Regions from separate parts of the Homo sapiens genome. Here region 1 is linked to region 2. Evidence: fine-mapped expression QTL. A gene starts in region 2. The other region holds a variant in brackets. All regions are shown on one strand. Distances are from middle to middle.

Evidence for each region. PIP is the estimated chance that this variant, and not a neighbour inherited with it, causes the effect. A credible set is the group of variants that fine-mapping cannot tell apart.
Region 1: its variant is the best candidate, but not a certain one, in a credible set for the expression of AP3M2 in spinal cord (GTEx, PIP 0.74).

The regions. Positions count from the first base shown.
Region 1 is chr8:42,622,914-42,627,435 of GRCh38, forward strand. No RefSeq gene overlaps it. Among named protein-coding and RNA genes, the nearest start is that of CHRNB3, 72 kb to the right of the region's middle. The variant G/C (reference allele first, on the strand shown) is at 1,735.
Region 2 is chr8:42,151,280-42,155,508 of GRCh38, forward strand. AP3M2 (adaptor related protein complex 3 subunit mu 2) reads left to right here and starts at 1,784. Exons shown (of 9, transcript NM_006803.4): 1 at 1,784-1,826; 2 at 3,337-3,681. The coding sequence starts at 3,409. RefSeq lists an enhancer at 740-859 and a silencer at 1,690-2,299.

The DNA of each region.
Region 1 (4,522 bases), 470 kb after region 2:
TACAAAAAAAATTAGCTGGGCATGTTGGTATGCGCCTGTAATCCCAGCTACTTGGAAAGCTGAGGCATGAGAATCGCTTGAACCCAGGAGGCAGAGGTTGCAGTAAGCCGAGATCGTGCCACTGCACTCCAGCCTGGGTGACAGAGCAAGACCCTATCTCAAAAACTAAAATAAAATAAAGTCTGACCTCCCCTGAGCAACAAGGAGTTCTGCCAGCAGATGACTTTTGGATTTAGACTGCCCCGGGGTCTCCAGCCTGCTGCCTGTCTTGCAGATTTTGAGCTTGTACCTCCATGATTGTGTGACTCACTTCCTTAACATAAATCTCTCTCTCATAGATATAGATATAGATGATATACATATAGATACACACATCCCATTGGTTGTGTTTCTTTGGAGAACCCTGATTAATACACATGTATATCCACATAACTCCATGTCATACACAGTAAAAAAAGAGAGGCCAGTTGTGGTGGCTCATACTTGTAATCCCAGCACTTTGAGAGGCCGAGATGGGAGGATCAGTTGATGACAGGAGTTTCAGACCAGCTTGGGCAACATAGCAAGACCCTACCTCTAAAAAAATTTTTTAGGCCGGGTGTGGTGGCTCACGCCTGTAATCCCAGCACTTTGGAGGGCCAAGGCAGGCAGATCATGAGGTCAGGAGATCGAGACCATCCTGGCTAACACGGTGAAACCCCGTCTCTAATAAAAATACAAAAAAATTAGCTGCGTGTGGTGGCGGGTGCCTGTAGTCCCAGCTACTCGGGAGGCCGAGGCAGGAGAATGGCGTGAACCCAGGAGGCGGAGCTTGCAGTGAGCCGAGATCGCACCACTGCACTCCAGCCTGGGTGACAAAGTGAGACTCTGTCTAAAAAAAAAAAAAAATTGTTTAAAAAATTATCCAGGTGTGGTGGCAGGTGCCTATAGTCCCAGCTACTTGGGAGGCTGAGGTGGGAGGATTGCTTGAGCCCAGGAGGTCAAGGCTGCAGTGAGCTATGATCGCACCACTGTACTCCAGCCTGGGTGACAGAGTAAGACCCTGTCTAAACTAATAATAATAATAATAATAATAATGAAGAAAAAAAGAGAAAATGAAATGTCAAAGGGCATGGGGATGAAAGATGGTCTGCAGCTACCAGTACTTTCTGTTGTCAGTGAAAATAAATTGGTTTAGTTGCTAAAGATGAATGGATTCATCAAATTAATCTAGACAGGTGATATTCAAACATTTTCCAAACAAAATCCTATATAGAATCTCAATATAACAAAATGGTTATACTTCAACTGCCTGACCCTCTTGAGGCACATCTGAACTTATTCTGGTCCATTGTCTACAAACAAGATGAGTGCAAGTCTCCCCAGTGATATTCTAGCATGATCTCAGTTTTACTTTTATTACAGTGCTGCTCAAGTCTGCACCAACGTTATTATAAATTCCTTATGCTCATAGCTCTTGAACAGGTATAATAAGACAAATTTACAAAGTCAGTAAAAGCATTCCTCCCAAACCACTAAAATTTAATTTAATAATATTAATTTAATTTCCCAAATGATGTTTTGCTTAAATTAAGTGCTACTGGTAACATCAATATGAAAATGACTTCTCTGGAGAAGTTTTTGTGTGCGTTTGACATGCCTTTACTATGTTGCAAATGTATGAAATGAGAAAGAACTCAAATTTCCCACACCCTTTTCCCTTTAAAATTACTGAACAACCTTCATTTATGTGGG[G/C]CCTCATGATATTATTTGATGTGGATATTGTGGAGACCTCTTCATTTCCTTTCTGGGTATCTCATGAAAATTAAAGCAGTACTGCCTGACACCAAAGGGAAGGTAGACACAAGCAGACCCCCAAGCCCTAGTGCGGGCAGTAGCCCTCGTTCAGTAGCCCTATGGGTTCAGTGTTATTATTCTATTCTATAATTCAGATAGAAGCTTACATGCATTTATTTAGAGACGCAGTCTCGCTCTATTGCCCAGGCTGGAGTATAGTGGCACGATCTTGGCTCACTGCAACCTCCGCCTCCTAGGTTCAAGCAATTCTCCTGACTCAGCCTCCCGAGTAGTTGGAATTACAGACCTGTGCCACCACGCACGGCTAATTTTTGTATTTTTAGTAGAGATGGGGTTTCACCATGTTGGCCAGGATGGTCTCGATCTCCTGACCTTGTGATCTGCCCATCTCGGCCTCCCAAAGTGCTGGGATTACAGGCATGAGCCACTGCACCTGGCCCATTTTCATGAACATGAAAACACCAATAGATGGCTGGGCGTGGTGGCTCATGCCTGTAATCCCAGCACTCTGGGAGGCCCAGGTGGGTGGATCACAAGGTCAGGAGTTGGAGACCAGCCTGGCCAACATGGTGAAACCCTGTCTCTACTAAAAATACAAAAAATTAGCCAGGCGTGGTGGCACATGCCTGTAGTCCTAGCTACTTGGGAGGCTGAGGCAGAAGACTCGCTTGAACCTGGGAGGCAGAGGTTGCAGTTAGCCGAGATCATGCCACTGCACTCCAGCCTGGGCAACAAAGCTAGACTTCGTCTCAAAAAAAAGAAAACACCAATAGAAGGGAATAGACTTGAGTGGCAAAATGCTATTAGTGAATCCACGTGAAGGGTGTGTAAATGTTCTTGTTTTATTTTTGCAACTATTCTGTAAGTCTGAACTTTTTTGAATTAAAAAGTTGGATTGACCGGGCGTGGTGGCTCACACCTGTAATTCTCAACATTTTGGGAGGCTGAGGCAGGAGGATCACTGGAGGCCAGTAGTTTGGGACCAGCCTGGGCAACATAGGGAGACAGTATATCTAAAAAAAATTAAAATAAAAAAATTAGCTCAGTGTGGTGGCACATGCCTGTAGTCTCATCTACTCGAGAGGCTGAGGCAAGAGTATTGCTTGAGCCCCAGAGTTCAAGGCTGCAGTGAGCTATGATCATGCCACCACATGTCATATGATCCAACCTTGGTGTCAGAGCAAGACCCTGTCTCTAAAAAATAAATAATCCTTCCTGGGGGAGATAGTTGAAAGAAAATAATAAATAAATAAAATTAAAAATTTAGAAAAAAAAGACTGGGCGCGGTGGCTCACACCTATAATCCCAGCACTTAAGGAGGCCAAGGCGGGTGGATCACCTGAGGTCAGGAGTTTGAGACCAGCCTGCCCAACATGGTGAAACCCCATCTCTACTAAAAATACATAAATTAGCCAGGTGTGGTGGCGGGCGCCTGTAATCCCAGCTACTTGGGAGGCTGAGGCAGGAGAATCGCTTGAACCCAGGAGGTGGAGATTGCAGTGAGCTGCACTACAGCCTGGGCAACAGCGACACTCCATCTCAGAAAAATAATTTTTTTTTTAGAAAAAAAAATTCTTATAGAGGAGACCTCACAGCTCACAAAAATATGTCTATACCCTGCAGCGTGAGAAACAGTGATCTACTTCAACCCTTCATTTTATAGATTAGAAAATTGAGACCCAGTGAGCAGAAATGACTTCTGGGAACATTACAGTGCCAATTAGTGGAGAATGAAGATTAAATCTCAGTCTCCTTGTCCAACGCTTCAGCAGACTCACTGTGAATTGCAGGGTTTAGATCCCTACATTTCTCACAGGGTGATACCATGCTGTGAGGAATTGTGGAGGATTTCACAATCAACTTGTGTTTCCAGAATGCTCCTCAGCAACCTTGGAGAAGACACCAGCTTGTGCACCCCAAACACATCACAGTCATAATAAAGAGAGTCCACTGTGGATGGAGGAGAGACTCCACTCTGCCAGGAAGCATTTCGGTTTTTTTGTTTTGTTTTTTGAGACAAAGCGTCTCTCTGTAGTGCAGTGACATAGGTGCGTGCCACCATGCCTGGCTAATTTTTGTATTTTTAATAGAGATGGGATTTCACCATGTTGGCCAGGCTGGTCTCAAACTCCTGACCTCAGTTGATCCACCCGTCTCAGCCTCCCAAAGTGCTGGGATTACAGGTGTGAGCCACAGTGCCCGACTGCATTTCATTCTTAAACAGGAAAAAAACCAAACCTGTTTGTCCTTGTAGTTCAGCTACCACTCAATCCTCCTTTAGGCAGTAATACCTGAGGATGGACAGGGCCAGGGTTTGTGACCTAGGGCCACACCCATGCCCGGACCCACCTGAAGATACTTTCTATGCTCTGGGCCCTGCCACCAGCCCTGCACTTTAATTTCTCTTCAGTAAAAAGGAGACTACAACGCTTTAGGGAAAGAGTAGGAATTTCTATACACAGAAGCACTTGGAAAATTGGAGTAAGAAATAAAATGCAAAATGCTTTAAGAAACGCTCCTCATTGAAACCATCATTTTCCTCTAGGGACAGGCCTCTGAATCTCAGGTTAAATAACTCAGTAGCTGAAAGGTGTGATTACTGTCAGAAGGACTGAAATGTCTAAGGGTTGAAAAGAATTCATGAAGGGTTTGAGCAAATGCTCTTGTCTCTGTCCTACAGAGAGGGTCAAGTTTACGAGAGAAATCCAGGGGGAAACAGCAAGTC
Region 2 (4,229 bases):
TACAAATTATAAAACACAGTGTATGGCACACAGTGTTTTATAAATATTAACATTTCCAAGGTTCACAACCACTAGGCTCCCTACTTACCTTTCCAGCCTGATCTCCCTGCGCTCTTCCTACCATTCCAGCTCAGCTATACTTAACTTGCTCATCTGCAGAGCCTTCCTTATGTACTTTTTTCTCTGTCCATCTATCCCTGCATTTGAGGGATCCTTTCTCATTTTCAGGTTTCAAGGTAGAGGGTCTTCCCTGACTCTAGGTCAGCCATCTCTACAGCACTCCTCCCACCCCCTATGCGTTCCTTATTCATCACACTGCATTGCAATCCCTTGCTTCTCATTTGTCTTTCCTGCTGGGCCCTGTAACCACAGGGACAATGCCTGTGACAGCAGTCATTGCAGCATCTCCAGCATCCAGCACAGGTCGATACGTGGGGGTTTTCGGCAAATGTTAATTCAGTGAATGAATGAGAAATTCTCACGGCAGCGACTGCATTTCTGCACCTTCGACACACATTATCACGTGTTATTGTATCTTGTGCTGTTCCTTAGGGCATAACAATTGCTAGCATTTTCTAACTCAATCCTCACAACTCTAGGAGGGAGGTACTATTCACGTTCTTATTTGAGAAGTGAGGAACTTGAAGTTTAGAGGAGTTACAGTTCTTTCTCACGGTCACTCAGGTTGTAAGTGTTGGAGCGGGTTCAAGCCAAGTCCTCTGGCACCAGCGTCCCTAAGCCCACCCAGAGTCATACCATTCTGCCATTTTGTTTCTGGCTTTTCTTCATAGTTCAAAGTCAGCCAACTACCTGCCCTTAGCAAGCGTGGAGAGAACCCCCCGCACCACCTCAGCAAAGGGCTTGTGTGTGGAGGAGCTGCCACCCACGCTCCATTTCACCAAAGTGACAACTAATGCTAGGGAGGGCGAACCTCTCATCGGCGAGGTCGCCACTGTCACCAGCGCCCACTGCTGGGTCCAAGGCTGGCGACGCCTCACCGCATCTGGGCTTGACTTCCTGCGTCACTGGGGCGACCCCTGGTCCTGACTTCCACTCCACGCCTTCGTGGATCAGGACGACTGGGACCACTCAAAAGCGTATCCAAGTCCTGAGGTCTCCAAAGCGGTGGAGAGACCCGCCCAGCCCCTCACTCCCCGGCTGGGAACTGAGATTGTGGAGGGTGGGCGCCCTGCCGCGGCCCAGTGGGGCTGGGGGCTTCCAGAGTCGGGGTCCAGGGCTCGGTGTCCGAGACTCCACCGCCAGCCGCGCCGACCTGACCCACGGCCGGGTACAACAGAGAAGGCGGCGCTTCCCAAAGGCACCGATGGAGTGCAGGGTAGCCGCCGCCCTCAGGATTTATCAACCGCGAGGCGCTGTCAGCAACTCGTGCCCGGAAGCCACCCCGCCCCGGCACACACATACTCCAGCGCCCCCTCCAGGCGCACTCCGCAAACACGCGAGCGCGGCGACCGCCCCAGCCCTTTGTGACTGGATGAGTGGGGCCGAGCAGCACGCACTGTCTTCGACCTCCAATCAGGACTCGGGGTCTCGGAGCTGTACCAATCGGAGATGACCGTGGCCTCAACAGGGCCAATCGGGGGACTCGAGCCCGACAACAGGGCAAGCCGCCAACAGCGATCAATCAGAGGGGAGGAGCGGCTCCCAGATACCCAATCAGCGGCCTTCAGGCGCAGATCGTGGGCGGAGCGGTAGCCAGGCCGCGGGCCGGCCAATCAGCGGGCGAGCGGCTGCCTCAGCGCGCGCGGCGGGCGGGGCGGGGCCTGTCCGCGCCTAGGAGCAGTGGGCGCTGAGAGCAGCAAGGCCAGGTGAGGAGTAGGGACGACCCCGAGCCTGGAGAGGGGGCAGGAGTGGGGGCGCGCGAGGGTCGGGGCGGGGTCTCAGGATGCAGCCGGGCGGCCTCTCAGGGCTGCGGACGCGGCGGGGAGAGGTGAGGGGCCGGGTTCAGAGTTCGGGGAGGGCGTCCTTCCCGGCGCCGCGGCTGCGGGCGGAGGGGACACTGTTGCCATGGCAGCGCACGTGCGCTCGCTGGCGCGGCCCGGCACCCCTGCGCTCTTCACCCCGGAACGCGCGTGCCCCTTCAGCCAGGCCCCTGCCCGCCTGCGCCCCGCGGCCTCCGTCGCCGCCGGCTCTGGGCCGGGGCCTGCGCAGGGACCGCCTGCCTAGGCCGCTGCCTCTCCCTCGCACCCCGGGCTGCCTGGCTGTCTCTCCCTCCTGCTGTCTCCTCCAGGCGGCGCTGGGCACCGCAGGCCTCTGCGTTTTGACCACCCGCGCCGGTTCGCGGAATGGCCACATCCTGGCGACTGGCACCAGAGAGATGCAACCGTCTGAGGGCCTTGGGGTGTCTGTCCCCCAGGGAAATTTTTTTTTTTTTTTGGAGGTGGAGGGGGCGGGGTTCTCCCTCTGTTGCCCGGGCTGATCTCGAACTCGTGAGCTCCAGCGGTCTGCCCGCGGAGGCCTCCCTAAGTACTGGGATCACAGGCGGGAGCCCCAAGGGATCTTTTTAAATGTCTTACTGCATTAACAAGTGCCTAAGGAGTGCTCAGAGAATAGCTCTGATTGGATGAATAAAGACCCCCAAGGGCAGCTTTCCATTCCTCCCACCAATTCTGGTGGGCAGAAATAGAAAGCAAACCACATATGTAATTGTACATGTTCTGGTAACCACTTTAAAATAATAAAACAGGTTAAATTAATTTTAATATATTTGATTTAACCCAGGATATCCAAAATGTTATTACAACATATAATCAATATTAAATTATTGGTAAGATATTTGAAATTTTTTTTTTCATGCAAAGCCTTTCAGATTTGTCGTGTGTCTTACACTTAACAGCACACCTCAGTCCGCACCAGCCACCTTTCAAGTGCTCGCTGGTCCCATAGTGGCTATCGTATTAAGCTGCGCATTTCTTGTGTATGTGTGAGCTGTTGCCAAAACATGACATCAAATTCAGTGTTCTTGGAAGCCCTCTTCAAAGAACACTGATTGTGTTGCAGTCAGGCAACGCAAAACATGAGGCACGGCCCTTTTCTTCAAGGAGTTTGCGGTTCGGTTGAGAAAATAGACACCCACAGATAAGTAGTATTTTAAATGGATGCAATTTGGGCGATAGTAAAGATAACTGGGAGTATATGATTGACAGTCAGATGACTGATCATTATCGTTTCGAATTCAAGGGAGGGCTATCTTCAGGCTCATGCAGGAGGGGAAGATTGGGCCTGGTCTTGAAAGATGGGTAAGTCTTGGACTGTTGGGAAAAGATGGGGAGGGCCTTTTGGTTGAATGGAACTGAATATCGCTGCTTTTGTTTTTAGAGTTGAAAACTTACAGAGTCCTGAGGCTTTCAGACTGAAAAAGGCTTTCTTCTGTCACTGACAATCGCCACCATGATCCATAGTCTTTTCTTGATCAACTCCTCTGGAGACATTTTCCTGGAGAAACATTGGAAAAGTGTGGTCAGCCGTTCTGTTTGTGATTACTTTTTTGAGGCGCAAGAGAGAGCTACTGAGGCAGAAAATGTGCCTCCGGTTATCCCTACCCCTCACCACTATCTCTTAAGTGTTTACCGCCACAAGATCTTTTTTGTGGCCGTGATCCAGACGGAGGTCCCCCCTCTGTTTGTCATTGAGTTTCTTCACCGAGTGGTGGACACATTTCAGGTTCGTGAATGTGGGAAAGTTCATATATGTAAACCGTAAAGTGTCTTTGTAGTCCTGTTTCCATTGTGTAAAGCCTCCATTAAGAAACTTAAAAAAAAAAATCAAAACTCTGGTATTACTCACTTCCTCTCCCATCTGATAAGATTCTGGTTTCTATTTATTGAATTGGCTGCATGCAAAATGACAAATGGAATACTTTTGAACCTCTTGCGTGGGAAAGTCATCCTATTTGCGATGACTATATATAGCCTTTCTAGCTCTGATTCTACTTTTTGCTCACAAATTAGAGTTTAGATTGTTTTTGCCTGGTGGTCTTGATCCTAACCATTGTTATCTGCATTGCTTTGAGTTGCATCAGAAAGTGATTGTATAAAGTTTTAGAAAAGAAAAAGTAGAAAAAGCTAAGGAATGCTTAATTTAACTCTCCCAGTCAGGGGTAACTCATGAACCTGTACTAGTTCTCAGGTTTGAGGTGGTTCTTTATAGTGAGAGAGTGGTACTGATGAGCTCTGCTTGCAAAGATGAGATTGGGAAATCTCATGTGCCTG